Regions from separate parts of the Homo sapiens genome. Here regions 2, 3, 4, 5, 6 and 7 are each linked to region 1. Evidence: fine-mapped expression QTL. A gene starts in region 1. Each other region holds a variant in brackets. All regions are shown on one strand. Distances are from middle to middle. Region 1 holds the start of JAKMIP3 (Janus kinase and microtubule interacting protein 3). Region 2 overlaps STK32C (serine/threonine kinase 32C). Region 3 holds the start of DPYSL4 (dihydropyrimidinase like 4). Region 4 overlaps DPYSL4 (dihydropyrimidinase like 4). Region 5 overlaps JAKMIP3 (Janus kinase and microtubule interacting protein 3). Region 6 overlaps JAKMIP3 (Janus kinase and microtubule interacting protein 3). Region 7 overlaps JAKMIP3 (Janus kinase and microtubule interacting protein 3).

Evidence for each region.
Region 2: its variant is fine-mapped to the expression of JAKMIP3 in whole blood (TOPMed, PIP above 0.99).
Region 3: its variant is fine-mapped to the expression of JAKMIP3 in whole blood (TOPMed, PIP above 0.99).
Region 4: its variant is fine-mapped to the expression of JAKMIP3 in whole blood (TOPMed, PIP above 0.99).
Region 5: its variant is fine-mapped to the expression of JAKMIP3 in cerebellum (GTEx, PIP above 0.99).
Region 6: its variant is fine-mapped to the expression of JAKMIP3 in cerebellum (GTEx, PIP above 0.99). The same link has a PIP of 0.9 or more in adrenal gland, aorta, caudate, cerebellar hemisphere, cerebral cortex and hippocampus.
Region 7: its variant is fine-mapped to the expression of JAKMIP3 in blood mononuclear cells (TOPMed, PIP above 0.99). The same link has a PIP of 0.9 or more in whole blood.

The regions. Positions count from the first base shown.
Region 1 is chr10:132,063,550-132,067,820 of GRCh38, reverse strand. JAKMIP3 (Janus kinase and microtubule interacting protein 3) reads right to left here and starts at 1,875. Exons shown (of 24, transcript NM_001323087.2): 1 at 1,760-1,875. RefSeq lists enhancers at 1-76, 2,351-3,098.
Region 2 is chr10:132,221,213-132,225,483 of GRCh38, reverse strand. STK32C (serine/threonine kinase 32C) reads left to right here. Exons shown (of 12, transcript NM_173575.4): 7 at 148-251; 8 at 961-1,077; 9 at 2,498-2,623; 10 at 2,712-2,843. Among named protein-coding and RNA genes, the nearest start is that of DPYSL4, 36 kb to the right of the region's middle. The variant G/A (reference allele first, on the strand shown) is at 2,362.
Region 3 is chr10:132,186,714-132,190,889 of GRCh38, reverse strand. It overlaps DPYSL4 (dihydropyrimidinase like 4), which reads right to left and starts at 3,942. Exons shown (of 14, transcript NM_006426.3): 1 at 3,788-3,942; 2 at 55-143. The coding sequence starts at 3,826. It overlaps JAKMIP3-AS1 (JAKMIP3 antisense RNA 1), which reads left to right and starts at 4,138. Exons shown (of 4, transcript NR_184044.1): 1 at 4,138-4,176. RefSeq lists an enhancer at 2,722-3,223. The variant C/T (reference allele first, on the strand shown) is at 2,272.
Region 4 is chr10:132,205,073-132,209,343 of GRCh38, reverse strand. DPYSL4 (dihydropyrimidinase like 4) reads right to left here. Exons shown (of 14, transcript NM_006426.3): 14 at 3,585-4,271. STK32C (serine/threonine kinase 32C) reads left to right here. Exons shown (of 12, transcript NM_173575.4): 11 at 243-310; 12 at 1,193-1,852. The coding sequence ends at 1,334. Among named protein-coding and RNA genes, the nearest start is that of DPYSL4, 20 kb to the right of the region's middle. The variant G/A (reference allele first, on the strand shown) is at 2,326.
Region 5 is chr10:132,130,775-132,135,045 of GRCh38, reverse strand. JAKMIP3 (Janus kinase and microtubule interacting protein 3) reads right to left here. Exons shown (of 24, transcript NM_001323087.2): 4 at 1,519-1,734; 5 at 1-5. Among named protein-coding and RNA genes, the nearest start is that of JAKMIP3-AS1, 54 kb to the left of the region's middle. The variant C/T (reference allele first, on the strand shown) is at 2,397.
Region 6 is chr10:132,139,503-132,143,773 of GRCh38, reverse strand. It overlaps JAKMIP3 (Janus kinase and microtubule interacting protein 3), which reads right to left. Exons shown (of 24, transcript NM_001323087.2): 10 at 3,195-3,323; 11 at 1,726-1,854. Among named protein-coding and RNA genes, the nearest start is that of JAKMIP3-AS1, 45 kb to the left of the region's middle. RefSeq lists enhancers at 432-1,278, 1,279-2,126. The variant T/C (reference allele first, on the strand shown) is at 1,851.
Region 7 is chr10:132,165,821-132,170,084 of GRCh38, reverse strand. It overlaps JAKMIP3 (Janus kinase and microtubule interacting protein 3), which reads right to left. Exons shown (of 24, transcript NM_001323087.2): 22 at 3,030-3,102; 23 at 1,052-2,132. The coding sequence ends at 3,052. Among named protein-coding and RNA genes, the nearest start is that of JAKMIP3-AS1, 19 kb to the left of the region's middle. The variant G/A (reference allele first, on the strand shown) is at 2,167.

The DNA.
Region 1 (4,271 bases):
ACACGGAAGCCCACAGTCCACACGGAAGCCCACAGTCCACACGGAAGCCCAGAGTCCACACGGAAGCCCACAGTCCAGTCCACATGGAAGCCCAGAGTCCACACGGAAGCCCACAGTCCACACGGAAGCCCACAGTCCACATGGAAGCCCACAGTCCAGTCCACACGGAAGCCCAGAGTCCACACGGAAGCCCACAGTACACACGGAAGCCCACAGTCCACACGGAAGTCCACAGTCAAGATCAACCTTCCAAGAACATGTATAGGACACTTACTTCTCTTGGAGGAGCTCGATCCAAAATACGGGGGCAGAGGCACAGCTCTGACTGACAGCTCCCTTGCTGTGGGACCACCACCTGGTCGTTTGGATATTGTTAGTTAGGACCTAAAGTAGTAAGGCCTTCCCAGGGCTGTCGGGAGAGAAGCAGGAGCTCCGTGCATGTTCTCTGCCACAGCGTGCCCTTAGGTTTCACAGGGGTGCCCTCAACTCACAGGAGAGGCAGGGAAACCTCGGGAATAGCAGGAATGCCAATGCCCTCCCCCCACCCTCAGCCTTGGAGAAGGAATGTGAATGTGCCAGGCGTCTTGTCTTCTCCAAGCACATATTGATCATATTGATCTACTCTGTGGGACTCTTAGGGAACCTCATCCAAACGCCAGCCTTTTGCCGGTAATGCTGTGAATGTAAACTGAGGGTCCTTCCTCGGCCCGGCTCACTTTCCTCTTCTGCTGCTCTTCTCGGGAACTGAGGTGGCGTTTTACCACGGACCTGCTCAAAGGCCCGATCCACTGAGAGGACTCTCAAGTCTACTACTCCAGGCTTGGCTTGGAATGAGAAAACCGTTTTGTGACTGGTTCTCCCACACTGTGAACAACAAAATCAACGGCAGCAGCAAGTATTTACATCCCTAGGGTGCCTGCATGGTTTCCCGGCCAGTCTCACTGACATCTCAATAAGCATCAGTACAACAACGTACTGCCAAGTTACCTGTGACACCCTTTCCACCGCAGCCCTGCCAGTCCCAATCAGCAGTGGATTTTCTTTGAACAACTGTAGAAACTGAGGCATGGTGCAATAACCTCAAAGAGTGAATTAGTAAGTTAATAAGCTGTTGTTTCCCAAAAACCTGGAGTTCCTTGCATAAGAAGTTATATCAATGAGTGATGTGTGATTCTTGATTAAGTTTTAAAGAGAAGACACCATCCAATCAATGCGCAGGTAGGTGGTGAGGCCTCAAGCCATAAAGATGACCTATTCTTCAAAAGGAAAACAAGCAGCAAAAAAGTCCAGCCGGTTACCCCACGGAGCCAGGAAGCACCCGGACGCCGCAGGCCTCCCGGGCTGTGCAGACAGCTCTCTGGTGCTATGTCCGTGGGATTCTCACCACAGCCGGCAATACACAGACTCAGCCTGGCTTCCCCAACCCACCCCACCACGGCTGCCGTGCCAACAAGCATCCGCTTTACATATGGGATGGAACACACACCCATGCTTTAAAGGAGAAACCTACTACTGGGAACGCAGGCCCAAGCCTCCTCCAAATGTGTGCATGAGCATGAACGTGAAAACGGATAAATGAAGCATCTTCCTCTGTGATCGTCCCTGCACCCCTCAGAGGACAGACCCCAAACTGTCAACTTTCCAGCCACATACGTGTGCGCACTAAATACAGAAGAGCACCAGGTGGAAAGAGCCTGTGCAGAGACAGCCAAACCGAAACCAACAAAGCCTCTGCAGCAGTCAGAAAATAAACACTCACATTCCAAAGCTCGCTGTCTGCTCCTCTCTCCCATCGCTCTGCTCGACTGTGAGAATCTTTCCCGGCTCGTCCAAGACTCAGTCCGGCTTTTGCGCAAATCAGCTCCGAGCTTCTATGACTCAGCAAAGAGCTCGGCTTTTATTTTTCAGATGGAATTTACCACGCTGTGACTACATCCAGGGGGAGGAACCATTTCCCCGAGCTGTTTCCAAGCAGAGCCCTTGAGCCAGGATCGCCCAAGCTCTCCCTGTGCACCTTAAGGCCAAGCACAGAGGCATCCTCTGAGCCCCCAGCCCAGCTCCCTGCAGGGCGCGAACAGACGCTTCTCGGTGGGGAAGGGGCCCGCAGCTCTGCACGGCCGGGCGGCCGAAGGCACAGCCACGCAGGTGAGATCCTGAAGGCAGCTTGGCTCTATTCAGATGCAGAGGCGGCCTGGGCTCCGGGTTGGCCCGGCGGCAGTCTCACGTGAAAACCAGCGAGCGGCAGAGGCCACGGCTGGGCCATCCCTGCCCTCACCGCCCCCTCGGCTTCCTGGCTGCTCCAGGACCGCGTTCTGGCCGGCTTTCCCTCCTGCTTGGAGAACCCCCTTCAAGATTGCAGAGTGAGCGGGTCAATAATAGGAACGAACTTCCACTCTGAGGGTATCTATTTTAAATGTCAGGTGATAGAAGGGATTTGCACACACTCAACACTGAGGACTGAAAATGCAGACGGGAACCAGACACAGGAGACCAGCAGCATTCCTGTGTGAAGGGCAAGCACGAGAGCTCACCTGGCCCGCCAATCCCACACGCAGTCCATAATCACCGTCCGGAAAAGCCGTGTGACAGCCGCTCTGTAGAAAACGCAGGGTCTGACAGGGTTTCCAAGCAGGAGGCCGCTTAGAGTCCATCTGGGTCCGATTCCATCAAGGCAGCCTTGAGGGCTGCCGGTGCGGGTGGCCTGAAGCTCCTGCCCTGCCCTGTCTCCGGCCACCAGGGCCTGCGCTGAGACTGCATCGGAGCCTGGACCCCAGAGCAGGCCTGCACGCCCAGGTTCTGGGGGTCAGCCTGGGAGGACCCTACATCCCCCCTGCTCCCAGCCCGCTCTGCCTCAGTTCCCTCGCCTGCACCCTGCCTGCCCCCCACAACCTGCCTCTTCTAGTCAAGGCCAAATGTCACTTCACCCCAAAGCTGAGACCGGCAGGCATCACCCCGAGAGGAGCCCACAGAGTGAACGCCGATGATAACATGTCAGAGGATGGCACAGGGCAGGCCAGGACTTCGGGTTACTTCTGCTGTCTGTCTAGATCTGGCCACCCTCATAAGTTAGAGCAAGCAAAAAATTGTCCTGATTAAAACCATGGCCACACGTCTGGCCAAACGTCCAGGGTGATGCAACAACCCTCCAAGGGTCACATGTCCTGACTCGTGTGACGGAGCCGCCCGCTGTCCCTGGTTACCAACCATCGCTGCCTCTATGTCACAGGGGAGGAGGCTGGAGCGCCAAGAGGCCATGCGGCTGCCCCACAATCACATCCCTGTCAGGTCCCGGAGCTGGATTCAGACCCGGAACGGTGGGTCGGAGATCCAGACCCCTCCCGTGTTGCCCTGAAGCAAAGAGGGTTCCCATGCCGGCGGCTCGGGGTCCACGCCCGACCCCGAGGGTGGCTCCTCCTCAGTCGGAGGCAGGCCACGGGGACAACCTTCCTGACGAGGGCAGTGCCCCCTCAGCCCAGCTGTCCTCCTGCTGGAATTGATCCTGGGGAAACAACACAAGGATGGTGTGTGCACAGATTTGACTTTAGTCCAAATACTTTATAGCACCTACCCCGTGCCAGGCGCTGTTGTAAGCCTTTAAATATAACTCACTCAGGGATGCTTACGGCAGTGTTGTCCATAATATAACAGGGAATAATTGGAAACATCCTAGACGTCCAACAGAGGAGTGATTTAACAAGCGATGGGAAACGCACATACGTCCAAATACAATGGGGCCATTTAAAAATGTCCCCAGTCCAAGCTTAACAGAAAGACGTAAACAACCTATTGTTTAAGTTTTTTAAAGTCAGCCATAAAAAAGCTGGTATCGTATGCTCACATTTCTGTTTAAAAAAGTGTGTATAGTATGATCACATTATTTGTTTTTAAAAACGCGTGCCTGTGTGTGTTGCACTCAAGAAAAACAAAGCCTGAAAGCGTAGATACCAAGCTCTAAAGTGGCCATAGCTCCAGGTGATAGGATCTCAGGTGACTTGATATTTTGTTTTGTATCTTTCTGAATTGTATGTATTTTTTTTGTAGAATTGGAAACAATATTTTTAGAATCAGAAAAAACATCTACTTTCATTTCCAAACAGATGCACATGCGTGTATGTGCTTTTGATTCCTGCAGTAAACGTGCCCCTTGCAGACGGTCCGTTCTCTCCCGGAGCCCAGAGGGAGACACTGTCCCTTCCAAATCCCCACGCTGGCTGAGGCGGAGAGCAGGTGGGTGCTGGGCCGGGCTGACACCCGGCGTTCCAGCTTAGGGA
Region 2 (4,271 bases), 160 kb before region 1:
GGTGGGAAGGACAAGACCTCGGTGGCTTCTCTGTCCCACCCTGGAGGCAGCCTGGTCTCGGGATGTGGCCTCAAGGTGCCGGCCCTGTGCCCACGGGTCCGGGCTGTGACCCCGTGGCAGCTGTTTTTCCTTCTTTCTGTCGGAAAGCTCCGGAGATCTTCCACTCTTTTGTCAACGGCGGGACCGGCTACTCCTTCGAGGTGGACTGGTGGTCGGTGGGGGTGATGGCCTATGAGCTGCTGCGAGGATGGGTATGGACCCCCTGCAGCCCCTGGGCTTGGCTGCCAGGCCCCTGCTCTCTGCCCCCACCAGTGCTGGGGAGGGGGTGGCTGCCCCAGTGTCCAGGTGCGCAGGGATGTCTCCACTGTGTCTGAGGAGTCACGCTTTTATCGAAGTGTGTAGTTGGTGATGGAATGCCTGAGCAGGAGGAGGAAGGACAGACTCACTGTGGTTTCCCGGGGCCGCTGCTGGTGCCTGCAGGCCAGCCTCTGTGGGGGTGGACAAGGCTGAGAACTGGCCAGCAGGGGTGCTGCCTCGGAACTTTCCACAAAAAGTTTCTTTTGGGGCCCTGTGCTCTTACCCTTGTGGCCACGGCGAGGCCAGTCCTGGAGACCGGGAGGCTGGGGGTCCTCTTGTGGACCGTACCCCTCAGCCCTGCACAGGACCCCACCTCTGAGGAAGCCAGCTCCCTCCTGGCCCTCTGGGGCTGATCTACCTGGACCCAGGCCCCCTGGGATCCCAGCCAGATGGGCGCAGCAGCCAGGGCGCAGGACCCAGGCGTAAGCTTTATCTCACCCAGGCTCCTCCGCGGCAGGTGGAGGCCAGGCTGTGCTCAGAGCTGTGCCTGCACTTGGGGTGGGGGGAGGGGGTCCTCTCAGGGCGATGGCACCTGTGTCTGGCATTGTTCTGGGTGTCCTGGGGGCCAGGAGGACCTGCCCAGCACTGCCTCCCTGTCTCCAGAGGCCCTATGACATCCACTCCAGCAACGCCGTGGAGTCCCTGGTGCAGCTGTTCAGCACCGTGAGCGTCCAGTATGTCCCCACGTGGTCCAAGGAGATGGTGGCCTTGCTGCGGAAGGTGAGCCCCCATCCCTGAGCCTCCTCACCCTCCGAGCACCCACCTCCCTCCCTCACTTACCTGCGGCTCGGGACACCCCCTCCAGTGCACAGTTAGTGCCGCTTCCTGGCAGGCACAGATCCCTTCACTGCAACCTGTGGGGGCCTCCGCAGATGGCAGCCCCAAGCCCCAGGAAGCGAGCTGGTGGCAGGCTCTGTGGCCCTCTCATGGCGAGCCCTACCAGGTCACTGGTGTCCTGGTGATCCCCTGAGCTGCGTCTCCAGGCACCCTCACAGCAGGCTTGTGCGCCCGCCCTGCCGGTCACCACAGAGGAGCCCTGAGCCACGTCCCCTTGTCCCACGTATTGGAAGGAGGGTGTCGGGTGGGTGGGTTCAAGCCCATGCTATCTCCGGGACCCTTTGCCCCAGTGCCTCCTGGGGAAGGTGGGCAGCCACTGCCCACTGCAAACACCTCTCAGGGGACATCAGCCTGGCAGGGACACGGGCAGGGGTGTGGCCATCAGTAGTGCCTCCCATTTGTGATCTGGTGCTAGGCTGGGGCTGTGCCTTGACTGGGCTGCACAGCTCCCTGTTCCGAGCCTCGCATTAACACCATAGGGGGTTCGGAGTCAGAGCCAGGCCCAGGCAGGACAGGGAGGGGAGTGAGTGTGCCACACGGGCCCGGCTGCCTCCCGGCCCCCGTGTCTCAGGCAGGTGGGGCCTCCTGCCCTGGAATTGTAGCCAAGCAGCCTAAATCCTTGGGGAGGCCTTGCCTGCCGGGGCCTCTCCCCAGCCCCGAGAGTCTCTTAACTCTGCTGTAGCCCCACGAAGCTCAGTCACACCTGCCCAGGTGGCTCACAAGGTGGCACTGGGCTAGAGAGGGCCTGCGTGGGGACTGGGGATGACCCACACGCCCAAGCCCAGGTCTGGGAAACCTCGCACGGGGTCTGGGTCTGCGGCATTTTCCCTGGAAAGGCGGGAGGTGCCAGCGCTGGGATGTTGCTTCCCAGGCCATGCATGGCTGCCCCGGGCTCATCTGGCCTGTGGAGGTCCCATGATTCGGTGAAGGAAGTGGCTCTGGGATAGTTACTGTGAGGCCAGCCATGTGCCGAGTGTTAGCCGCTAGCCGGGCCTCGGCTGCCACCTCCTGGCAAATCCCAGCAGAGCCTTCCCTGCAGATCCCTCTGCTGTCCTCTGGCGCCAGGGGTTTAGGTAGCAGCACTGAGAACAGGCGTCCCTTGGGCCACATGCTGAGCCAGCCACGGTGCTTTGCCTGATGTCGGCCGTCGGCACCACCCTTCCTCGC[G/A]TGGCCCTGAGGTTCCTGAATTCTGAACCTCAGGCTTGGTGGGACCCTCCTCAAGGTGCCCTGGCCTGGGGGTGGCGGGCTATTCCGTGCTGGTGGGCTGTGGGCCCTGGACCCTCTGACTCATGCCTGGTTGCAGCTCCTCACTGTGAACCCCGAGCACCGGCTCTCCAGCCTCCAGGACGTGCAGGCAGCCCCGGCGCTGGCCGGCGTGCTGTGGGACCACCTGAGCGAGAAGAGGGTGGAGCCGGGCTTCGTGCCCAACGTAAGCCTGTGGGCGGCTCAGGTGGGGGGCCCTGGGGATGGATGTGGCGTCCTCCACGGGCCGGGGCTCAGCACCCATCCCTCTGTAGAAAGGCCGTCTGCACTGCGACCCCACCTTTGAGCTGGAGGAGATGATCCTGGAGTCCAGGCCCCTGCACAAGAAGAAGAAGCGTCTGGCCAAGAACAAGTCCCGGGACAACAGCAGGGACAGCTCCCAGTCCGTGAGTGCCAGGGCAGGCTCAGGGCGCGGCGGCGGGCTGGGCTTGGGGCTCCTCTCTACCACCGAGCAAGGCGTGTGGGGACCCCTGGCAGCGCACACGTCTCGGAAGTCCAGCAGACCGTTTCCTGAAGTCCTGAGAAGGCCAGAGACCTCCCTTCTGCCTTTCCCAGCCCCCACCTCGCTCCTTATGAAGCAGGTGGGCAGGGACAACCAGGGCTGGGGTTATGAGTGCACGGGGATGGCCATGTGAAGCCTTCGTGCTTGCCCAGGTGTGCTGGTGTTGGTTGTGTGTGCGGGGACGGCTATGTGAAGCCCTCACACTCGCCCAGGTGCGTCAGCATCAGGTATGTGTGCCGGGACAGCCATGTGAAGCCCTCACACTCACCCAGGTGCGTCGGCATCAGTTGTGTGTGTGGGGACGGCCATGTGAAGCCCTCACACTCGCCCAGGTGTGCTGGCTTTGGTTGTGTGTGCAGGGATGGCCACATGAAGCCCTCACACTCGCCCAGGTGCGTCAGCATCAGGTGTGTGTGTGGGGACGGCCATGTGAAGCCCTCACACTCGCCCAGGTGCGTTGATGTTGTGTGTGCAGGGATGGCCATGTGAAGCCCTCACACTCACCCAGGTGCGTTGATGTCAGTTGTGTGTGCAGGGACAGCCATGTGAAGCCCTCAGACTAGCCCAGGTGTGTCGGTGTCAGTTGTGTGTGTGGGGATGGCCACGTGAAGCCCTCACACTTGCCCAGGTGCGTTGATATTAGTTGTGTGTGCAGGGATGGCCACGTGAAGCCCTCACACTCACCCAGGTGCGTTGATGTCAGTTGTGAGTGTGTGCAGGGATGGCCACATGAAGCCCTCAGACTCGCCCAGGTGTGCTGGCTTTGGTTGTGTGTGCAGGGACGGCCATGTGAAGCCCTCACACTCGCCCAGGTGCGTCAGCATCAGTTGTGTGTGTGGGGACGGCCATGTGAAGCCCTCACACTCACCCAGGTGTGTCGACATCAGTTGTGTGTGGGGGGACGGCCATCTGAAGCCCTCACACTCACCCAGGTGTATCGGTGTCAGTTGTGTGTGCGGGGATGGCCACGTGAAGCCCTCACACTTGCCCAGGTGCGTTGATATTAGTTGTGTGTGCAGGGATGGCCACGTGAAGCCCTCACACTCACCCAGGTGCGTTGATGTCAGTTGTGAGTGTGTGCAGGGATGGCCACGTGAAGCCCTCAGACTAGCCCAGGTGTGCTGGCTTTGGTTGTGTGTGCAGGGACGGCCATGTGAAGCCCTCACACTCGCCCAGGTGCGTCAGCATCAGTTGTGTGTGTGGGGACGGCCATGTGAAGCCCTCACACTCGCCCAGGTGCGTCAGCATCAGTTGTGTGTGTGGGGATGGCCACGTGAAGCCCTCAGACTAGCCCAGGTGCGTCAGCATCAGG
Region 3 (4,176 bases), 120 kb before region 1:
ACCAGCGTGTACACACGAGCTGGGAACGTATTTTCATTTTCGGCGGAAACTTACTTTATCAAGCCATCTTCCACGTGCACATCAGCGTAAAAGGACTGGTCGTCATTCACGATCCTCCCACCTCTGATCAGAAGGCGGTCACTCTATCGGGAACAACAAAGGGTAATTTTTCTCCAAACTGAGTTACTCAGTAACACTCTTGGTGCAACTCCTTCCTCTGAAATTATGACTGAAACATTCAGGCAAAATTTCTAGACGTAAAAACGAGCACAAAAGCCTGCAGCGGCTTACTATTCCCCAAGAAGTGGCACCAGGCGCTCAAAAACAGTTGCCCCTGGAAGTGCCACGCACGCCCCACAGCTGCTGCTCAGACCTCGCTGAGGGCAAAGCCCGTGTTGGTGAAAGTGTGGTAGTGCCACAGGTCATATTTATATCTTCTGATTTACCACTGGATTGAGGAGCCCCAGCCTGAGGTGGGAGGCGAACGCTGCCTCATGGCCTCCTGTGCAGCCTCAGAGATCCTGCTCTCCTCCACCCTGTCTTCCACCCACGCAGAGGAGGCTGGGAGCGGACGGAGCTGGACTTTGGTTCCACCCAAACACTACAGACCAGTGATGGTGCCAGGAGGCGGAGGCAGACAGCGCCCCCACAGGCATGGTCCCCACCCCAGGAGGCTGCCTCCCACTGAGGGGAGACCAACGGCAGCAAAAACACACGTGCACAGATCATCACAGTCGGTGACGAATGCGCAGAGCACAGTGAGGGCGCCATGGCAGGGCCATGAGAGAGGGGCTGGGAGAAGGACCTCTGGGGCCAGGGTGGCTGATACAGGGGCAAGGCAGACATGGCGAGCGTTCCAGCCAGGAAGCAGCCTGGCCTTGGGGCAGGAAAGGGCTTGAGCTGCCATCAGCAGACCTGGGAGGAGGCCGAGGGATGGAACCTTCTGGTGGGGTGGTGGTGCCAGAGGCAAGTCGGTGCCCAGAGCTTGGCAGGGGCAGGATATGTAGGCCTGGGGACTCCATGGCTGCCCCCTGACTGGGGGCCTTAAGCAGGTTTCAATCCTGGTTTGATGTTTTAAAGAGATCACCTTTGGCTGCTGTGTTAGAAAGTAGCTTGTGACAGGTAACAGTGGGAGCCGGATCATTGCTGGGGTGATTTCTGAGTGAGATGAGGGGCTCTGGGACAGGACTATGGGAAGGGACGGGAGGAGAGTGGATTCCAGAGAGGCTGGGAGTCAGGAGGGCAGGACTTGCTGACCAAGAGGCCATGGGGGTGATGGGGAAGAGATGGGGTGACCTCGGTTCCAGTGCAGCTCGGACGCACTCCCAGTGGGACACAGAGCGTCAGGCTGGTGAGGCCCGCTCTTTGTAGGTCAGCCCTGGCAGCACAGAGCTGTGGCGTTAGACAGGGATTGACTCCAGTGCTTGGCAGTCATAAATCCACTTCTAAGAATCCTACCAGATGGCCGGGAAGCAGAAGATTAGGCAGAAAGTAGGGTGTCACTGATGGGACTCTGCATGACCGTCAGAGGTGAAGATCTGACCTCATTGGAGAATGGGGGAGAGAAACACAAAAAAGGAGTGAAAGGAGGTGGAGAAGGACGCGCCCACGGGCTGGACTCGGCAACGCTTTTCCCTCCACCGTCTGGCGTGCGCCTCAGCACGCCCTGCAACTGACCCGGCAGGACTGACCGTCTGCATTTAACAGGGAGGTCCGGCCGCCTGCTCTGGGTTTCCAGGGCCCACCCATAGGTGGCCAGGGCCCTAGCCTGGGGCTAGAGCCTTCACGCACCGTCAGTCTGAAGCCAAGAGCATTAAACTGAAGTGCACAATTGGTAAAACTCTCAGAATGAGAAGGAGTTCATTATCTAGGAACTCCATTACAGGATTCACTGCTGACATCTAACTGTGGGGCTGTATTTTCAGGATCCCAGTGACTTGTCAACCTCTACCCCATAGTCTACAAACGGTTGGCAGACTATGCCACAGGCCAGACCCAACCCTCTACCTCTCTTCATACAGCCCTAGGCTAAGAATCGTTCTTGTATATTCACTGAAAACAATAACAAGAGTATGTCATGACTCAAAAATTCTATGAAGTTCACACTGCAGCATCCACAGATGAAGTTTTGTTGGAACACAGTGGTGCCCATCGACTTCCTAAATGTCCAGGACTGCTTTCCTGGCAGGGCCAAGCAGCTGAGACAGGAACAGCGTGGTCCGCAAAGCTGACAACATTTACTCTCGGGCTGGTTGTGGAAGAAGTTTTAGA[C/T]CCTTGGTCTACAGAGCTGTCTGTTCCCAGCCGCTGCACCTCTCCTCCTCCTGCCCAGTCCCAGCTGAGCGCCAGGCTCAGCCCTGACCCGGCACCACCATGCATTTGCAGAGCCTCTGTGGCCGCATCAGGCCCTGGCTGCCTTCCCGGTGCTGTCCCTCTTCTTCACTTTCCACCCCTCCCAGGGGACCCACGCATTTTCAAGGAAGCCCTAGAAAACGCAACCGGGCAGAAGGAGGCTTGAGGAGACGTGTGGTCTGGGCTCTCTGCTCATAGGCGCCCAAGTGTTCAGGCACCCGCACTGAGACTGGGTTTGGAACCCAGAGGAGACGCAGCTGGGGTGTGGGGCTGTGCTCTTCTTACTGCACTCATCCGGATGGAGGTGAAAGTTCCCGGGAAGCAGCTGCCCCTCCGCACTGACATGGTTGCCTGACCTCCCCTGGGAAGGGGTCCTCCTGCCACCCCCAAACTCGACCCCCACATGCCAGCTGACTGGCAAGACCTCCTGCATCAAGACCAGACCCAGCCGGGCAGAACCCTCTGGAGGCAGCAGCCCCTCCCATCTGGAGAGGGGAGGGCTCCTTCCTCGCTCAGAGTCTGGGGGAGTGGAGCCCACAGCCCACGGCTCGAGCTAATGCCAGAGGTCAGACCCCACGGCCCTCCCGCCGAGGCCAAGTCCAGAGTCGGGTCTGGGACCCCATGGACTCCCCCGCCCAGGTCCTGCCGGGTCCCGAAGCCTCCTTCCTCCCACCCCCATCTCCCCCCGCCCGAGCGGGGAGGCTTTGTTTCTGGCAGAGCGGGACCTCCCGCGCCGGTGCGTGTGGGTGTTGGGGAGGGGTCTCTGCTCTCGAAGGTTCAGGGGCTGCCAGGGTTCCCGGCCAGTGGCCCTTGACCGCTCGCTTTCCTTGGAGTCGCTGAACCCAGGTTACTGGAAGGGTTCGGGGCCACCAGGGACTCCGGCCAGAGCGGCCGGGGCTAAATCGCTTTGTCTCGGACAAAGAGCTCCCGACGCAGCGCCAGTGCGTCCAAGGGGCGGGCGACCCACGGGCTGCGCCGGGAACGGCATCTCCCCGCGCCCCGGACCAGCCCGGGCCAACAAAGGGCCGCGTCCGCCCGCCTCGCCACCCGACCGCCGTGGGAGAAAGGAGCCGCTAGCGCTCCGAGGGACAGGCCGCCCGGCCCCGGGTTCTCCCCGGGCGCAGCCGAGGCTCCCGGAAGCCGGCAAGGCCGGGCAAGGCCGGGCAGGGCCCGGCAGGGCCCGGCAGGGCCGGGCAGGGCCGGGCCGGGCCGGGCCTGGGCGCCCCGCTCCTTAAGGGGGTCTGCGCGGCGCTAGCGGGGACTCTCGGACCCTGGGGCGCGAAGGAGCCGAGCAGGGAAGGGCGGGCGCCAGGACAGGGACCAGACGCAAAGGCAGGGACCCCCCACCCACGCACAAGACCAGGAGGGTCCGCCCGGCGTCCAGGCCCCACTCCGGGCGGCGGGCAGGGGGCGCCGGGCGAAGCGGGACCGGGCTCACCGTGATCCGGGGGATGCTTTTCTTGCCCTGGAAGGACATCCTGCTCCTGGGGGTCTCTGGTAGGGGCGGCACAAGCGGGGGCGGGCGGGCGGGCGGGCGGGCGGGGGGACGCGTGAGCCGGGACGCGTGCGTGGGGACGGCGGGAGACAGACTGCGAGCGCGCGGGGCCGCACGGCTCCGTTCCGGTCCCGCCCCCGCTGGGCCCCGCCCCCACCCCGGCTCCGCCCCCGGCAGGCCCCGCCCCCGATAGGGCCCGCCCCAGCCCGAGCCCCGCCTCACCCCGCCCATCAGCCCCGCCCCCGCCCTCAGCCACTCCTTCGCTTTAAAGCCCCCCCAGCGCTGGAACCGCTGCAGGGTCTGATCTCTGCACCCCGGGCCCCCGCGCAGAC
Region 4 (4,271 bases), 140 kb before region 1:
CCATCCACCCAGAGGCAAGGGAGCTGGGCCTTGGCATCCTCGGGCTTGGGTGAGTCACCCGCAGAGATGCGAGCTCCCGGGCAGTCTGGCTGCTGGAGGGCCGGGGCACTTCAATAGCCCAGAGGCCGTCATCCAAAGCCACAGGTGGAGGCCCGATGGGGATGCCCAGACACTCACTTGAGGGGACATGGGCGGAACCTGGACAGCGTCCCCCACGCTCACGTGTGCCTTTCCATCCACAGGAGAATGACTATCTTCAAGACTGCCTCGATGCCATCCAGCAAGACTTCGTGATTTTTAACAGAGAAAAGTGAGTGTGTTGGGGGTGGGTGGGCGTGGTGGCAGAGAGGAGGAAAATGGGGCTAAGGTTAAGGTTTTCTTGGCCACGTGAGCGGGCACCTGTGGGCCTGGGGTGCGTGGCCCTGCTCTCTTTGGGGACTCTGAGCAGCAGCTATGGAGGGGAGCGGCGGGAGGCCCCTGCCAGGCTCTGGCATGTTTGTGCTCCACGCGGGGCCCGTGGCTGGAATCTTCTGGGGAGAGACACATCATTTGCCCAGATGAGGGGTGGTGACTTCCTAGGAGGCCCCATCAGAGCCACGTCAACTCCCCCACCCAGGCACGCCCTCAGTCTCTCAGCAGACCTTTCCTGAATGTCAGGCCCCAGGGGACAGAAAGGGCACAGATGACTGGCAGCAGGCAAGGCAGGCCAGAAATAGCAGCAGCTGCCACGGTGGGGCCCAAGGGAGGATGGATGCTCCCTCTGCCCGCACGGGGCAAGGAGGGCCTCCTGGAGGAGGTGGGTCTGAGCTCTTATGGACAGGACGTGCAGGGCAGCACGTGCAGACGGCTGAGGGCACTGACTGGCACCCTGGGGATCAGATGACCGGGTGAAGAATGAGGCTTAGCCGAGCCTCATTCCCAAGTCACTGACCTATGGCACCTGCACAGTCAGGCCTTTCGGCTTCTGGCTGGAAACACGCCGAGCCTCGCCAGCATGCTCACGTGCCCCCACCCGTCCCCAGGCTCCCTGCCAGTGTATCGGGAGCATGGCCTCTCCAGCAGACACCGAGCCTGTGGCCCACGTTTGGGCATCCACGCCATGGCCTACCCCATGAGCCCGTGGGCAGGTCATGGGACCGTGAGGCCAGGGAGGTGGGGGCATAACGCCCTCCATGTGTTCCTGCCACCCCAGGCTGAAGAGGAGCCAGGACCTCCCGAGGGAGCCTCTCCCCGCCCCTGAGTCCAGGGATGCTGCGGAGCCTGTGGAGGACGAGGCGGAACGCTCCGCCCTGCCCATGTGCGGCCCCATTTGCCCCTCGGCCGGGAGCGGCTAGGCCGGGACGCCCGTGGTCCTCACCCCTTGAGCTGCTTTGGAGACTCGGCTGCCAGAGGGAGGGCCATGGGCCGAGGCCTGGCATTCACGTTCCCACCCAGCCTGGCTGGCGGTGCCCACAGTGCCCCGGACACATTTCACACCTCAGGCTCGTGGTGGTGCAGGGGACAAGAGGCTGTGGGTGCAGGGGACACCTGTGGAGGGCATTTCCCGTGGGCCCCCGAGACCCGCCTAGATGGAGGAAGCGCTGCTGGGCGCCCTCTTACCGCTCACGGGGAGCTGGGGCCATGGATGGGACAGGAGTCTTTGTCCCTGCTCAGCCCGGAGGCTGTGCACGGCCCTCGTCACAAGGTGACCCTTGCAGCACAGGCCGCGGGTGCCCCAGGCTCGGCTCAGGTCTTGGAGGTCAAGGGCATGGGTTGGGGTAGTGGGTGGGGAGGTGAATGTTTTCTAGAGATTCAAACTGCTCCAGCAATTTCTGTAGTTTTCACCTCTGAGAATTACAATGTGAGAACCGCTCGATGTTGCATGTTCTGCGTACGTCCTGTGTCTGCCTGGCCGTCAGGCCGGTGCCTGCCGTTTCTGGTTGGCCTGGACTTGGGGCAGCCAGTGGGGTGGGCAGCTCCTCAGGGCAGAGCTCCCGGACCATGGCTTTGGGGTGGGTGCCTGTCTCCGTGGCCCTGGAGCCGTAAGGCTGTGGAAGGCAGAGACGGTCCTGGAGGCAGAGGAGCCCAGGACAGCACCGTGCACCGTGGAGCCACCGCAGTGCCGGGCAGTGCTTGGCCCTCCATAAAGGGACGTATCCCTCTCACTGTGGCTGGGTGGTTCTGTGGTTGGAACTGTAACTAACTGGGTAAACGGCCTGTGTGCTTCTCTCTGGTCTCGCTGGAGGAGGACGGGCTCAGCCCATCAGCCCAGCGCTCCAGACAGGCCTGTGCTGGTTTCCTCTGAGGAAATGGGTGTGGCGGGTCTGTGCCCCTTCCCAGGACAGC[G/A]GCCATAGTGGACATGTGCCTAGACCTGTGTCCATGAGCCCCACTGCACCCCTGGCAAACAGGGCCCTCCCGTCCTTGGCTGGGCTGCGAGATGGAGATGACAACGGCCAAAGAACATTTGGGGAAGAACCGGCCATGCCACGAGCAGAGTCAGAAGTCCGAGGGGATAGAATGCAGCTTCCCGTCCCCCACCCACCCCTGTCCTCTGAATCATGGCAGAAACTAGCCTTCCAGCCCTCAGCAGCTCACATGGGGGACACGGCACCCAAATCACCACCAGGAAGGGTGGCCCGGTCTCTGCGAGGGCCCAGAGGCGCCGTGTACTCGGTGGAAGTCTGGCGATGTCAGAGACAGGCTCGGGGCAAGGACAGGTGTGGGGGTTTGAATAAGTGCATTTGGGGAACATGGCAGGGTGGTGCACCTTGTCCTCCTTCGAGACACTGGTGAGGTGTGGGTGCTGTCTGGTTCCCTTGATCGCCCCCCACACTGGGGCAGAGTGGGAGATGCTGGTGTGGGGGACATCAGCTCCCACATCTGGGCCAGAGGGAGCCCCGGGAAGGAAATGCTGAGGGCCCAGGGCCTTCGCCTGGGATCTGCACAGCTTTATAAGCAGCCCAGGGTGAGAGATGGGCCTGTCTGTGGTTCCCAGAGACCACGGCAGGAAATTCTCTGTCACCATCGGTGCATGGGCAGGGGCCAGAGAACCGGTGGCACAAGGTGTCCCTGGCTCTCTGCTCAACAAACAGCGAGTGCCCAGTGACTGCGACCAGGCCCCGCTCTTGGGATGAGGACAACCGTCTGGGAACGTCCACGCACCCTTTGAGACACAGCACGCGCCAGCACCGCAGTCACACACCGGGGGCTCGGGTCAGCCTCATAGCTGCCCGGCCTTGAGTGCTGGGCCTGCGTCTGTGAGCAGCGCCCACCTGGGTGGCGGTGGTGTGTGCTTCACTTCCACACACTCCCGTGCATGCTCCCCGGCCTTCTGGGGTGGCTCGGGCTGTCCGGTGAGAATGTAGGCGGGGGGGGGGGGGGGCCTCTGTCCCGCCCTGGATGTTGGCTGCCCTCTGCCCCGCCCTGGATGTTGGCTGCCCTGCCGGCCCTCTTCCCTGTGAGAGGGTGCGCTCCTCCCTGCCATTGAGGGGAGAAGAGCTGCGGCTGCAGGAGTCGTCGGACCAGCCCACAGCCAGCCAGGCCCCGCCTGTGCAGAGACGGCGTGGGGGAGAGGAGACGGGGCCTTCCTTCCATGCACAGGCGGCTTCAAACCCAGACGTCTTTAATGGGCCTGATTCACATCAGAGGCAGGATGACTGCCTGTCCAGGCGGTGGGTGGCATGCACAGGTTCCTGGCTACAGTGTCCTCAGTGTACAAAGCTGCTACTAAGAAGCCTACGGAAATACACAATCTGTAATAAGAGGACAGTGTCTTCCTAAAGGATCGCAAAACTTCCCTGGATGAGGGCTACATGGAAGCTTAGGTGTGGGCCTTGGGGTGCGTAAAAGGGACCCTCCACGGGCGGGGCTGTGCTGCACCAAGTTCTGATGGGTCCCTGAAGTCTCAGCAGCTGTGTGAGCAGGAGGGCTCTGCGCCCACTTTCCTCCCAGGCCTGCGATGGGCACAGGCCTCTGAGGAGCGGCTGCGGGAGTGTAGGGCTCTGCGAGGCAGTGACTGGTGGTGGGGAGGCGGCGGCAAATGCCCACCAGGCGGGACTCGGCCCCTCGCCGGTTCACCAAGAAGCCTGGTGTCCAGCTGCTCCCACACTGTGAGCCCGGCAGGTTCCCTGTCCCCAGGCTGGGCCCAGCGGGCACTGGGGTGCCTGGGCTCAGGCTGCCGGCATTGTCCCTGCCATGTGGCTCCACCTCACCCTGGCAGTGACATCTCCCCAGGTTCAGCCCTTCTCTTGAGGGGCTCTTGGCAGCAGGACCTGGGACCCCACAAGGAGAGC
Region 5 (4,271 bases), 67 kb before region 1:
TGTTCCTAAAACAAAAATCAACTGCAAATAACGGTTCCTACCCACAAGCCTGGGAAGCCTTTGCAAATCCCAGCACGCTACGGGAACAAAAACGCTGCCGTGGGACGCGCGCCTTTACCTCCACGCGGCTGCCGGGAAGGTTCGGAGCCCCCCGGGGAAAGGCACCCAGCCTGGCACTGTGGTTGCCGCAACCGCGTGAGGCAACAGAACCGACGGGCAGAGCGAGACCCTACCTCACACACAACTATTTTAAAATAACATAAAGTAAAATAATGAAAAGGAGCAGACATGTCTAGAAGTATGCAGATGGAGAGGGCGGGGGCGTGCAAATGCAGAAACCGCGAGTGTGGGTGATGCCAGGAGGACGTCTGCCAGCTCCCAGCCCTCTGCCTGGCCCCTGCCGCTGCCCCTTCAGGAGGGTGCGCGCCCCCTGCCCCACGGGGCGGCATTTCTCTGGTACGATGACATGAGCACGGGAAAGACACTTGTGGGAGACTTCCAAAAGAGGTGACCTGCCTCCAATGGGGCTTCTAAAGAGCCGCTTTTGGGACCCCTGGGACTTCACTCAAAAATTGGTGAAAACATTTGAATCCGGTTTCAGATCTCTCTGGAGTGAATGCTGTAGTCTACCACGCACCAGCAGGAGGGGCTGGATCTCATTCAATGAAGCTGTCTGAATGAGATCTTAAAATAATATTTTCTATTCTTGAAATGTCACTGTCCTAGGACCGGCTCAGCTCACACACAGTTTTATCCTCAAAGCGAACAAGCAGCATCCAGGATGGTCCTGGGCCCGACTCGAGTTCCTCATTCAACAGGTGCAGGAGAGGCTCGGGGTCAAAGACCCAGAAGGACCAGCTGGAGGGTCCCTGGACTTCAGATCCCCCAGCGCATCCCAGAACCACGACAGAGGATATGAGTGCGGAGCGGCAGCAAGGAAGCGGGTGGAGCTCAGCCCGGGGTGGTCGGCAGACCCCACACGACAGAGCGGCCCAGGGAGGAGCGCAGAGTGGCATGATCACATGAGAAGCGGGTGGGAGGGTGACTGGTGATGAGAGTGCCGGAAATCACCCTTGAGGGGCCAGCTGGGCACGCGGTGGGCAGGGAGCCGGTGCACCAGCCTTCCCGGGCCAGAGGCAGAGGCCGTGTGCTTGGAGATGGTGGCAGCGCATACCCAGCACAGCCTCCTCCCACCAACCCAGGGCCGGACTCCGGGCCAGCAAGTGCCATGAACTGCAGCAGAAGGGTGATGAGGCCGGGGCCCACGGGAGGGTGACAGGGCCAGAGCTGATGCTATGTAGACAGAAAGGAAGGAGACGAGTCCACCAGCCCTCTGGACCAGAGCCAGAGGAGCTGAGCACCTAGGGCCAGGCTGGGTGGGGAGGTGCCCAGGCAGGAGGGTGCTGCCTCAACTCGGGCTCTGGTCTCCTGGGGGAGTGGCCCATGCAGGGCCATGCAGCCACATGGCCAGGTCTGTCTGTGACACGGGGTGGGCCGGTGGGCCTGGGAGGTGCTTACAGGGCTTCCCGAGTGGTCTGAAGCGTCTCCTGCACCAGCTGCATGAGGAAGTTCCCGTCTGGGGCTGCCCGGGTGCCGGTCGGCCTCTCGGACCTGGGACAGCTGCTCATCTAGAGCCTCTTTTTGGAGCTGCAGTCTCTGAGCATGCCCGGCTTGAACCCCTAACTCTCTCTCCAGCACGAAGACTGCTCTGTCTTTAAATTTTATCTCCTCCATCTACAAGGAGAACAGAACACAATCACACAGGCGGCAGGACACGGATCTGCAGTTACCATAGAAACGGGCGCAGCCCTGCCAGGCTCTGGGCTCTGAGACCGGAAGCAAAAGCGAAGCATCCTGGACTAAGAGCAGGAGCCCGTGGCCCTGGGCTGAGGCACGACACCCGGGCTCCCAGCAGGCCCTGGCTCAGCCGGCTACGCAGAGCTGCTGCCAGCGGGAGACTCCTTCCTGACGGTCCCCGGGCTCTGTGTGCTCAGCAAGGCACCCCATTCCGTGCTGTCCTGCCGGGGCCCTGGGTGCACACAGGGGTGGTACTTTCTAGCAGGGTCAGCAGAAACCACCTCCAGCTCCTGACTCTGCTGTAGGTTGGACAGAGAGGAGGACACCCAAGTTACCCACACTCTGCCAATAGGAAGGTGCCACGGCCAAGTTTCTTCCCTAAACAGGCAGGGGAGACCATGGGGAACAGAAATTCTGGCCTGAAAGCCAGTGCTACCCCTTCCCCAGCCCAGGCCCACTCCCCAGGGGAGGGCTGTGCAACGTAGGGGCACCACTGTGGTCCTTGGACACCGCCCCTCCATGCTTCTGGGCATGGCTACAAAGCTGGGGCCCCGCACAGCTGTCTTCAGGCAGAGCCACACTGCTCATTAATCTGGCTG[C/T]GAGCCAAGGCTTTTGGGGTGAGACGGCAGCCCAGGGGTGTGCAGGATGTCTGCCCCACCAGTGGCTGTGAGAGGTCGGCGGCCCTCCCCACCCTCCCTACAACGTGGCGCTTTGTGCTCAACCTATGAAGGGAAGAAGTCCTTCCTTCCGGGGATATGGCAGCCGCTGCCTGCAAGTACCCCGCCCCGCTTCCGGGCAGGAATGTGCCAGCCAGAACGCGGGCACAGCAGACCCGACAGCCCCCGCTCTTCAGACAGACACGCTCGGCACTTTGGGCATCATTTTCCACGGCACTAGATTTATGAAAAGACAAGGTCTTTGGGGATGAACAACTCAGTTTGAAATATATTTTCAAACAACAGAGCAGAATGGGATATCTTGCTGCTTTACCCATTGTTTGAGGTTTAAACAAGCTAATAAATCTGCTATTGCTGAAATTAGCTTGGAAACAAAGAAATGAGATGTCTAATTAGCCTGGATGGAGCAAGTGATGAGCTGAACAGAAGAAAATAAATCCTTAATTGCTAAATCCCCATTTTCTCTGCACACAGCAATGCTGAAAGAGGCAACACAGTCAGTTAGCAGGAATGGGGCCGGTGAAATAAGAGCGTGTCCATCAGCAGCTGTGCCTGCGGCCTGGCATTTACACTCTCAGACTCAAACAAGATTTTCTTTTATCAGGAGCCCCCACCTTGCTCACGGTGGGCTGTTTCCAGCAGCAGGCAGGGCAGGATTCGGGGGCTTCCCATGCCTGTGCAGGCGCCGCACCCCACCCTGCACTTCTTCCCATGGGGCTGTGGGTGGGGGGCGGCACACCTGTCTCCTGTCCCACCTGCACCCACACAGACACCCGGGGGAAGAGCCCTCCCAGCGGGTTCCGGACTGAGAGGGCTCCCAGGACACGGGACGTTCAAAGCTGAAACAGGCGTCCTGGTGCACCAGGCTGCAAGCATCACCCCACTGCCAGCATCTTCCACTGGGACGAATGCTATGGCTTCCAAACGGCCGCCCTGTGTCCTCTCCTGTGCCTACCCAAGCTGCTCCACTCACAACCCTAGAGTCAGCTCCACAAACAAGAGTCAGAGGCTGTCATAAAACATCCTACCCCGGCACTAAGAACAGGATCCACAACACTTGCTGGAGCCCCCGGGTGCCCCAGAGCTCCCATCTCCCCGGGCCCGACACCCTCACCCCTTAGGTACCCTGTCTCTCAGGCCCCCATACCCTCACCCCATAAGCTCCCATCTCCCCTGGGCCTCACACCTGCACCCCAGAGCTCCCATCTCCCACACCCTCACTCGTTAAGTCCTGTGTCTCTCAAGCCCCCACACACTCACCCCATAAGCTCCTATCTCCCCAGCCCCCCACACCCTTACCTCATAAGCTCCCATCTCCCTGCCCCCCGACTCTTCCCCATACTCTTCATCCCCTGAACTCCCGTCTCCCCACAACGCCCCCATACTCCCTCACCCCATGAGCTCCCTCTGTTGCCTTCCCCACCCACCAGGACCTCCTCACTCCCAGCTGCAGAGGATGCCTGGAAACTGGAGAGAAGCCCCTTGAGACGGTACTCTCCAGGACAGGGGGTGTGCAGGCCGACGCTGAGGCTGGAGGAGAGAAGATGCCCCTCCACTCTGCCCGCCCCCGACTTGCCTGCCCCCAAGCATGCCCCGCACAGTGTCTCTCTGCATGGGGCCCCGACATGCAGCATCACAGCCACCTGTGACGGCTGTCCATAGGCAGAACCCTGAGCCCCCCAAGATGAGCATGTAGAACCTCTAGGGTGGAGCCTGGGAAGCTGCATTTCATAAGCCTCCCTGCTGTGAAGCCCACGGACATGATCTCACCACTGCCCCACAGTGCTGAGGCCCCTG
Region 6 (4,271 bases), 76 kb before region 1:
GTCTTCAGACGCCTGTCCTCTCCTGCCCCCTTCCTTATCCTGAGGCTTCCTCGATTTCCACAGTGAGGAGTGACATTTCCAATTATAATACAGAATCAGACTGTGGGATGCCGGCTAGTCTATTTTCTTCATTAATCTTTTCTGTATCTTCTAGTTTTTAAAATAACCATGCAGCACTTCTCGGCATCAGATTTTCCTCTGATTCTAAATGACATTAAACTTTTTTTTACATGCAGTTTGGACATTTTTACTCTCTAAGCAAAGCTTCTGAGTTCTTTGCTTCCATGTGGCCCCCGAGCAAATGTTTCTCTGGCACCCGACAGGAAAAAGGGAAGACAGGATGCTTTCTCCAGCTCCTCCAGCTCCTGGCGAGCTTGGCCAGGAGGATGCGGCTGTTGCCCCGCCCCCGCTGTGAGGGAGAAAGGCTGGGCCCATGAGGCTCTGGGATGTCTCGGGGCTGCTGTGCTTTATGATGCTCTGAACCGAGGCCTTGACTTTTTCCTTTCTCCAAGGGTCATGCAAAAATTAAGTCAAAGTGAAAGAGGCGATATTTAAAGTCCCCAGTTACGGAGACAAATCTCTCCGAGCCTGAGGAGGGGACGCCCCCTCCAAGGCCAGCCCCCCCCACCCCGACTCAGGACAGGAGGAGGGCACAGAGGGGTGGAGCTCTCTCTTAGTTTTCACAACAGACGTCCCCAATGAGGTGCCAGGAAGGCAGGAGGGAAACCAGCCACGTCACCAGGGCGGTCTGGGTGGACAGAGGATGAGGCTGGCGGCTCCCTGGGGCACTAGCGTGGACCACGCTGGGGATGCTCTGTGGACACTCTCCCCTCGCCCCAAGAGGTCCGTCCCCCACCCAGCTCAGCCACCCTAAGTTGCAGAATTGCCAGACACTGGCATCTCTGGCCCTGCAGGGTGGTTTTGGGGTGGGGAGGCCAACGGGAACCCCACACCCCACAGCTGCCTGCTCTGGAGAACCCCTCAGCTCCCCCGGAAAGCAGCCCGTCTCGCTGTGAGGGGTACCAGGTGCAGGTCCTCCAGCGGCTTCCCCTCCGAGCCTCAGTAAGGGAGGGTGGGGCGGCAAGAGGACCCCCGACCCATGGCCCACGCTCTCCCCACGAGGCCTGGTGCCTGCACTGCCCTCCACGGCCCGCAGAGGGCACCCGCCAGCCACACTGAGGCCTTTCCTGGGGGACGACGCTAAGGTGAGCCAGGGAAGTGGGCGGAGGGACACGGCTGCTGGGGTGCTGCCCAGTGGGGAGGCCGGGGGAGAGGGGCCGGGGCCGGGGCCGGGGCAGGCACAGCCTGTGTGAGCTCAGCCTTTGAGGATGAATGACCTCCACAAGTTTCAACACCGAGCTCGATGCTGCCACGGGCCATCGCCATGCTGCCAAGAGTGGAAGAGGTGGTCTGGAAGGAGGCCCACCCTGGGCGCTGTGGGCCCCTGCCACCACTACCACCCCGCCTCCCCCAGGACCCTTACTCACACCTGTGCCTGGCACCGCTCTGGGCCAGTCCCTCCCACCTGGGCCAACTCCCAGCACCGGGATCCCCAATCCCTGGTTTTGATCGGCTTCCATGGGCACCACCAGGACTGCAGGCAAGGGCAGGAGAGGAGGGGCCCGGGCCCAGGAGGGCTAGTGAGGGGGGTGTCCCAGCCCAGGCCACGGGGTCAAGCGGGAAGGCACGAGGGGGGCCGGAACGCGCGGTGGAAGTCACGTAGACCTTAACTTCTCGCTCTGCGTCCAGCGTCCCTCCAACCTGCTCCTGCAACAAAGCGTAGGCACGCTGCAGGGCCTGGTACTCCATGGTCAGCTGCCGGAACCTCAGCTCCGTCTCCTCCTTGGCCA[T/C]GCCCTGGAGAGACACGGATGCCACACACGCACAGAGACACAGTGTCAGTAGCCAGCACCTCCTCCGATGGCGGGGCCCCGGGGCTTCCCTTCTCCCCAGATATCAAATGGTGTATGGGGGGGTCTCTCTAGCAGCATGAGGGAGGGGACCTGCTCCAGTGTGCAGGGAGGGGCGGCTGCCTGGGGACTCAGTGCTGTTTGGAGAAAGGTTTCCCTGGGGAGGGGAGCACCGAGCCCTGGGGTGGGAGCTGAGTCGGCTGCACGGCTGAGGACAGGGTGAGCCTGCTGGGCTGGTGGCCATGGCCAGGGGCTCAGCTGGGGCTCCTGCTTGCTAGCCAGGCTGCCCTGACCCAGCAGACCCTCTGTTACCAACCAGGCCTGCACACGCTCTGCTCTGCTGAAACACGTCCTGGGAAGAAAGCTGGGCTTTGTGAAGGGGGTAAAGTACCCCAGGCAGCACGTCTCCTCCCAGGTGCACTCTTGCAGGCTCACCCTGCTAGCTGCAGTGCCCCCCGTCACCCCAGGGAGAAGACAGGTGAGCCTGCTGCTGCCTTCAAAGGGTCCCGGTGGACCCCCGGGGCTGGAAGGGTTGGCCACGTCTAGGAGTGACTGAGCCCAGAAGCCTTGGCCTGGCCCAGTTCCCCTGCCCAACCCTGCACCTGAGGCTGTGAGAGGATGTCTTAGATCCCTCAACAGGTCTATGGCCATTGGGCCACCCTCCAGGGTCTGCCACGGGAGGCCCAATCCTTGGCTGTGCCATTGACTGCAGACCCCACTCCTTGTCCCACAGCCACAGGGTCTGGGTCCCACAACACCAAGCCCCGACCTGGTGCTGAAATGGCTGCCTGCGCCTGAGGGTAGCCGTCCTTCTGGAAGAAGGGGCTGGTGGGCAGACACACCTGTGCTGTTATCAGAAAGAAAACTCCTGCTCAACACCCCTCACCCTAATGTGCTCTTGGCACTGAGACCAAACTCCCTGATGAGTGGTTCAGACCCTCCTGGGGAGGCCCCTTAGGAAGGGAGAGCTCACCGTACCCCTATGCAGAAGGGGCGTAGGCTCAGTGGCAGAAGGAGGCATGGTTTGGCCTTCATGGGAGCAAGAGCGGGCCTCAGCCCACACCCCAAGCCATGTCATGGGAGCTTCTCACCGTGCCCGAGTCAGCTATCAGCGGGTCAGTGCCAGTGAGGGCCGCGAAGGGCTTCCCCGTGAAAAGCCGGCAGCCCATGCCCAGCCAAGCCCAGGACCCGGCAGGAGACCCTCGTTACCTCCTCCAAGCCCAGGACCCGGCAGGAGACCCTCGTTACCTCCTCCAAGCCCAGGACCCGGCAGGAGACCCTCGTTACCTCCTCCAAGTCATCGTCCGGGGTGCACGGGGTCTGGTCCGTCCTGTCTGTTTGGTAAGAGACGGAGGAGCCGTCGGATTCCAGGGAAGCCTCTTCGTCGTATCCAAAGAAGGTCTCCACAACCACCGGCTTGTGACCAAAATGCGACGTGTCAGTTCAAACCAGACCCAGGCACAGCCGCCTCCTCCCGCCGCCTCCTCCCGCTGCCCAACGGTGGGGGCCGCAGCCCCACCCTGCGACACACTCCCATCTCTGTCCCTGGCACAGGCCGAGGAGGTGGCCTGGGTGTGAGGGGCGCTCTATGGCAAGGCTGGCAGGGCGGGTGGGGAAGGGGCCTGGAGTCCCGTGGGTGAGCGGGTCCTGGCCCTGCCCTTGGTGGTGGGGAATGAGGCCCTTCGTGGGGCACCGTCCCTGCGGTTCCCTGAGGGTGGTACCCGGGTTAACAGAACCGACGATGGGTGCCTTCCCTGTGTGATCTCATTCCCAGTGATGCATTTCTGTTCCATTTTTTAAAGTTTCAGTCCTTGACTGATTGGAATACAAACAAAAACGGGGTCCTCCGCCAGCTGGTGTGAGAGGCCCTGCCTTTGGGGACCCTCCAGGTTCACCCCGACGTCTGCATCTTTAGGGCCCCCTCACCCCTGCCTTCAAGAATCGAAGAGGGACTCATCTGGGTCCCCTTCAGAAGTGTTACAAAATGGAAAGCCCGCCATCTTCTTCAGTCCCTTCTGCCGTGGCCACAGTGGCCTCCAGGTCTCCTCCCAGTTCTTCTGCCAGAACCTTCCAGCAAAACTCCCTCAGGGACCCCAGGGCCACCCGACTTCCCCTACTCCCCGCCAACCACTGGCCCCTGTCCTGTGTGCCTCCCCACACCCTGTGTCCTCCCTTCACAGGGCCAAGGCGTCTGCTGGACACTTCCAAATCCCAGAGGGGTCCCGAGCGGGGAGAGCCTGGACAGCTCCTCCTCTCCACCTTTCAGAGGGCAAGTGTTTGTGACCGAGGAGCATCTCACAGTCTAACAGCGAGAAAACACTGCTGACAGCTTACAAGCCACACACACACTCACACTCACACATA
Region 7 (4,264 bases), 100 kb before region 1:
CTGCTGGTCTCCCGCTCCTTCTAGAATGAACCTCTGCAGCGAACCTTCTGGCCTGAGGCTGTGCCTGGGCGCCCTTGGTGGATGCAGGAGCCAGATGCTGCTGGGTACCCAGGTCCCGACCCCGCGAGGACGCCGCCTCGTCCACCACGCACCTGAAGAACGCGCCCCAGGGGACCTGCAAGACGGAGCCGCCGCCCCCTTCGCACCTCCTCCTCGCTGCGGACCCCTCCTGAGTCAAGGGTGAAGATGGAGCTGCCGCCCTCTCCTGAGTCCAGGGTGGTGGTCGCACCTCCTCCTCCCCCTCCCATTTTCTACGCAGGGAGCATCTCCCGGGAACAACAGTGCCCGTGGCCCACAGCCGCTGCCCACTGCAGGAGACACAGGTGGCTCTCAGACACGGTGTGGGTCGGAGGTGGGGGAGATGGAGCGCTCCCTGGGCGGCCCCCCATGGGGCTGCCACTGCCTCCCCAAGAACCGGCTCACCCTGCCCCAGGGCCCCGCTGAGTCCCACAGACACAACGGATCCACAAACCCTCCCATAGGGAACCCCGCTGGCGAGGAAAGCTCCACGGTGGAGCATGCCCAGAGTCCTGACCTCCCTCCCTCCCTGCTGGGAGCACCCAGAGTCGCCTCCCCAGAGCGGACACCTCAGGTGCCGGGGCCGAGTGTGGGGCGGCGTCCACGTTCAAGTGCACGGGAGCAGCGGAGGGAGGCGCACTCGGAGAGCGGCCTCATTGCACCTACGGGGTTTCTCCCTTTTCCCGCAAGCCTCCTCCTGCAAGTGGGAGGAGGACCAGCTCTGCCAGACGCCAGGTCCCCGTGGAGCACCATGTCTGCAGACCCTGCCCCAGCGACAGCTCACGCCACGCTCCACACCAGCCCCCAGGCCCTGTCCCGTCAGTGGCGGGAGAGGTGATCTTGACGGGTCAGCAGTGGACGGGGTGGCAGCGTCACGCATGTGCAGACGGGGACACAGAGGTGTGAAGAAGCTGGAGCTCACCTCGCAGGGAGGGTGCAAAGGCCCTCCCCGCGGACAGATGGCAGCCCTTACCTGTCAGCCTCTTGGTCCACGGCTCGTGCAGCGTCCCCACACAGGGCGGGAGGGGAAAGGCCGTCCCCGCGGTTCCCTTCTTGCGCCCGCCATCCCCACCTGGGCTGCTCCTTGTGTGCAAAGGCTTGGGGTGAGGCTTCGGTGCCCGCCGGGGTCCATGGCCTGCAGGGCTGGCCCGTGCAGGGGCTTCCAGGCTGGGTGGCTCTGGGTGCCCAGGGCCTCTGTGACTTCTGGAGATTCACTATGGAGGCAGCCTCTGGCATCCGTGTTCCAGCCAGCTCCGCCCCCTCGTCCCACCTCCTGTCACCACGCTCCCCACGCCTTCCTTGGCTCAGTCCCGCGGTGCTCCCAGCTGGCGGCTTGGGCGGGATCTTGGCCTTCCTGTCTCAGGTTGAGTAGGGAGGCAGAGGGTTGATGGCACCACGCGGCCCGCGGCGGCCACGGCTCTTGTCTGTCCCCACAGAGATGATGATGAACGAGGGTGGATGTGGGGTCTGTTGGCCAGCGGGTGCTCAGGACCCCAGCAACATATTGCAGCATCGGAGGGGCCCCTGAGGCGTCGGGGAGCCCTCCCAGGACCATCCCAGGGAGCCTCCAGGTTCCCCTGAATGAAGGTCACCGTCCAGCTTTCATCTTGTCATCAGGCCAAGCCTCTGTTGTTTCTGAAAATCTTCCTCCAGACACCAGTGGCAGCTACTGTGAGAACCAAGAGAGAGGAGGGGACCCGCGGCTGGTGCTTCTGCACAGAAGCAGTTCTCACCCCTGCTTGGCAGGGAATGCTACACATCCCTGGAAATGGGATGGGGGCTGCCGTCCGGGAGAAGGGACCCAGGGTCCAGCAGCCAAGGCCAGGCCCGTCCCGGAGAAGCCCCCGAGAAGTCGGCAGAGCCAGTTCTAGTTCTGGCACATCCCACGTGGACGGCAGCTCCACGCCCCACACACTGCCCCTTCTCACTCTTCCTCCACGGGACGGGCGTGCAGAGACCAAATCTCCCTGGGTCTTCAGGATGGAGACGCGACGTCCCATTTTGTCCCTGCTTTCTGGTCCCACTGGAGGAAAAGGGTCCGATTCAATGTGGGGCTGGAAGAAATGAAACGTAGAGTGCAGAGTCAGC[G/A]AGGCTCCGCTTGGCTGGAGTGAGGGGCGAGGGCCGAGGGGCGAGGGGCGAGGGCCGAGGGGTGAGGGGCGAGGGGCGAGGGCCGAGGGGTGAGGGCCGAGGGGTGAGGGGTGAGGACCGAAGGGCTGCGTGGAGAGGATGTCAGGGAGACTCCACTTGGCTGGAGTGAGGGGTAAGGGGTGAGGGATGAGGGGCTTCATGGAGAGGGAGAGCCCTGCTCCCAGGGGAAGCTCCTCTCGGGACCTGCTGAAGGGTGCAGACTCGAGGACCGAGGCGAACAATGATGTGACGTCCTACTTGCCCCTCCTCCAGTTTGGAAGGAGGCAGCCATCTATGCTGGCGGGTGCCATGGTAGCAGCAGCCATGACCTGTAGACTCCAGCTATCCTGGCCTAAGCTGCCCGGCCTGGCAGGGAGACCAAGCCCTCCTGGCTGAATCTCCAGCACCGCCCGAGCTTGTGCTCAGCACCACCCAGAAAAGAACAAGGACGAATCACAGAACCACCGTGTCTGCCCCCAGGGCCTGCTGCCGAGTGCCACCAAAGCAGAAAGACCCCCTAGAGAGGGTCCTGCATGTTTCTGCTACACTGGGGTGGTGGTGGGAACCCTGCTCTCCTTCCCGTTCAGGAAAGGTGAGCACCTTGCGGCCTCTACAGTGGAAGACTCCGGGTCCTGACCCCCAGGGAGGGACTTCCAGTGTTGAAGGACGCGGGTGGCTTTCTAACAACCCTTTTGGGGATGCTGGGTCATCGCCTTCCAGTTGATCGAATGGCAGGTGGGCAACTCCCTGGCAGGGCAGGGGCAGAGGAGTCTTCCGGGAAGCAGAGCGGGACCCCTGCTGGGCCCTGCCAACGAAATACTCACCACGTCAGGGTGCCAAGACGGACTATGACCAGAGAATGAAAGCTAAGGAGAAAAATAAGAACAAAAATAGAAACTGAAACGGAAAGGGGAGGATGGAGAAACGGAAGGAAAGAAAGAGAAAAAAGAGTTTGTAGTGCTTCTGGCAAGAAATACACGCGATTACAGACTGAAGACAGAGCTGTTGGCAGGGAGGAGAGGACGCTATTAAGGACTGTGCCGAGGGAGGGATGCTGCCCAAATCCCCGGGTCTGAGGGGTGGTGCCGCCACCCCTAGGAACGCACTGGGGACTCTGCACCGGGCAGATGCGGGTGGTGGGCGCTGGTCAGGGGCCCCACACCCAGCGTGTCCCCAGCACCACAAGGCCAGCCTCCCGGGGACTGGGTCTCCTCCTCCCTGAAGTGAAACCCATCGCTGAGACCTGCTGCAGGAATTTTTGGCAAGAGCACCAATGGGGTAATAATAATGGTGAACGTTGTATTGAAAGACATTCCAAGTGCCCAGCAAACAAAAGCAGGCCTGTGAGAATATTGTGGTCTCAGTCCCACCGTAAGCAGCAAAGTACAACCAGCACCCTGAGCAGACAAAGCGCACACAGTCTCACTCTGGGCTGGGGGTCGGGAGCCAGGCCCATCTGGACACGAGAGAAAATCGGGCAGTGGGGCATCGCTTGGGAATGAAGAGCTATTTAGCTAGATTTAAGAAATAACACCTGATCTATTTTTTTCTTTGGAGACAGGATCTCAGTCGGTCACCCAGTCTGGAGTGCAGTGACGTAATCATGGCTCACTGCAGCCTCAACCTCCCAGGCTCAGGTGATCCTCCCACCTCGGCCCCCTGAGTAACGGAGATTATAGGCACGTGCCACCATGTCCAGCTATGTTTTAAAATTTTTTTCTAGAGACAGGGTCTCACTATGTTGCCCAGGCTGGTCTTGAAATCCTGGGCTCAAGCGATCCTCCCATCTAGGCCTCCTAAAGTACTGGAATTACAGGCATGAGCCACCACGCCTAGCCCTCACATTTTTCTAGTATTTAATACAAACAAATATCCTTAGGTTAAGATGCAAAATGAAACAGACATTTGGTTTGGGGAGAGGCTTTGCCCTCTGAGGCTCCAGCCCCCAGAACACTGTGTCCCCTCCCGGCAAGGCCGGGTGCCCCTGCGTGCTAGTGGGTGCTTCCCCACGTGGCCTGGAGTCCACCGGGGCCTCAAAGGCTGTGCCTTGAGTAACTCG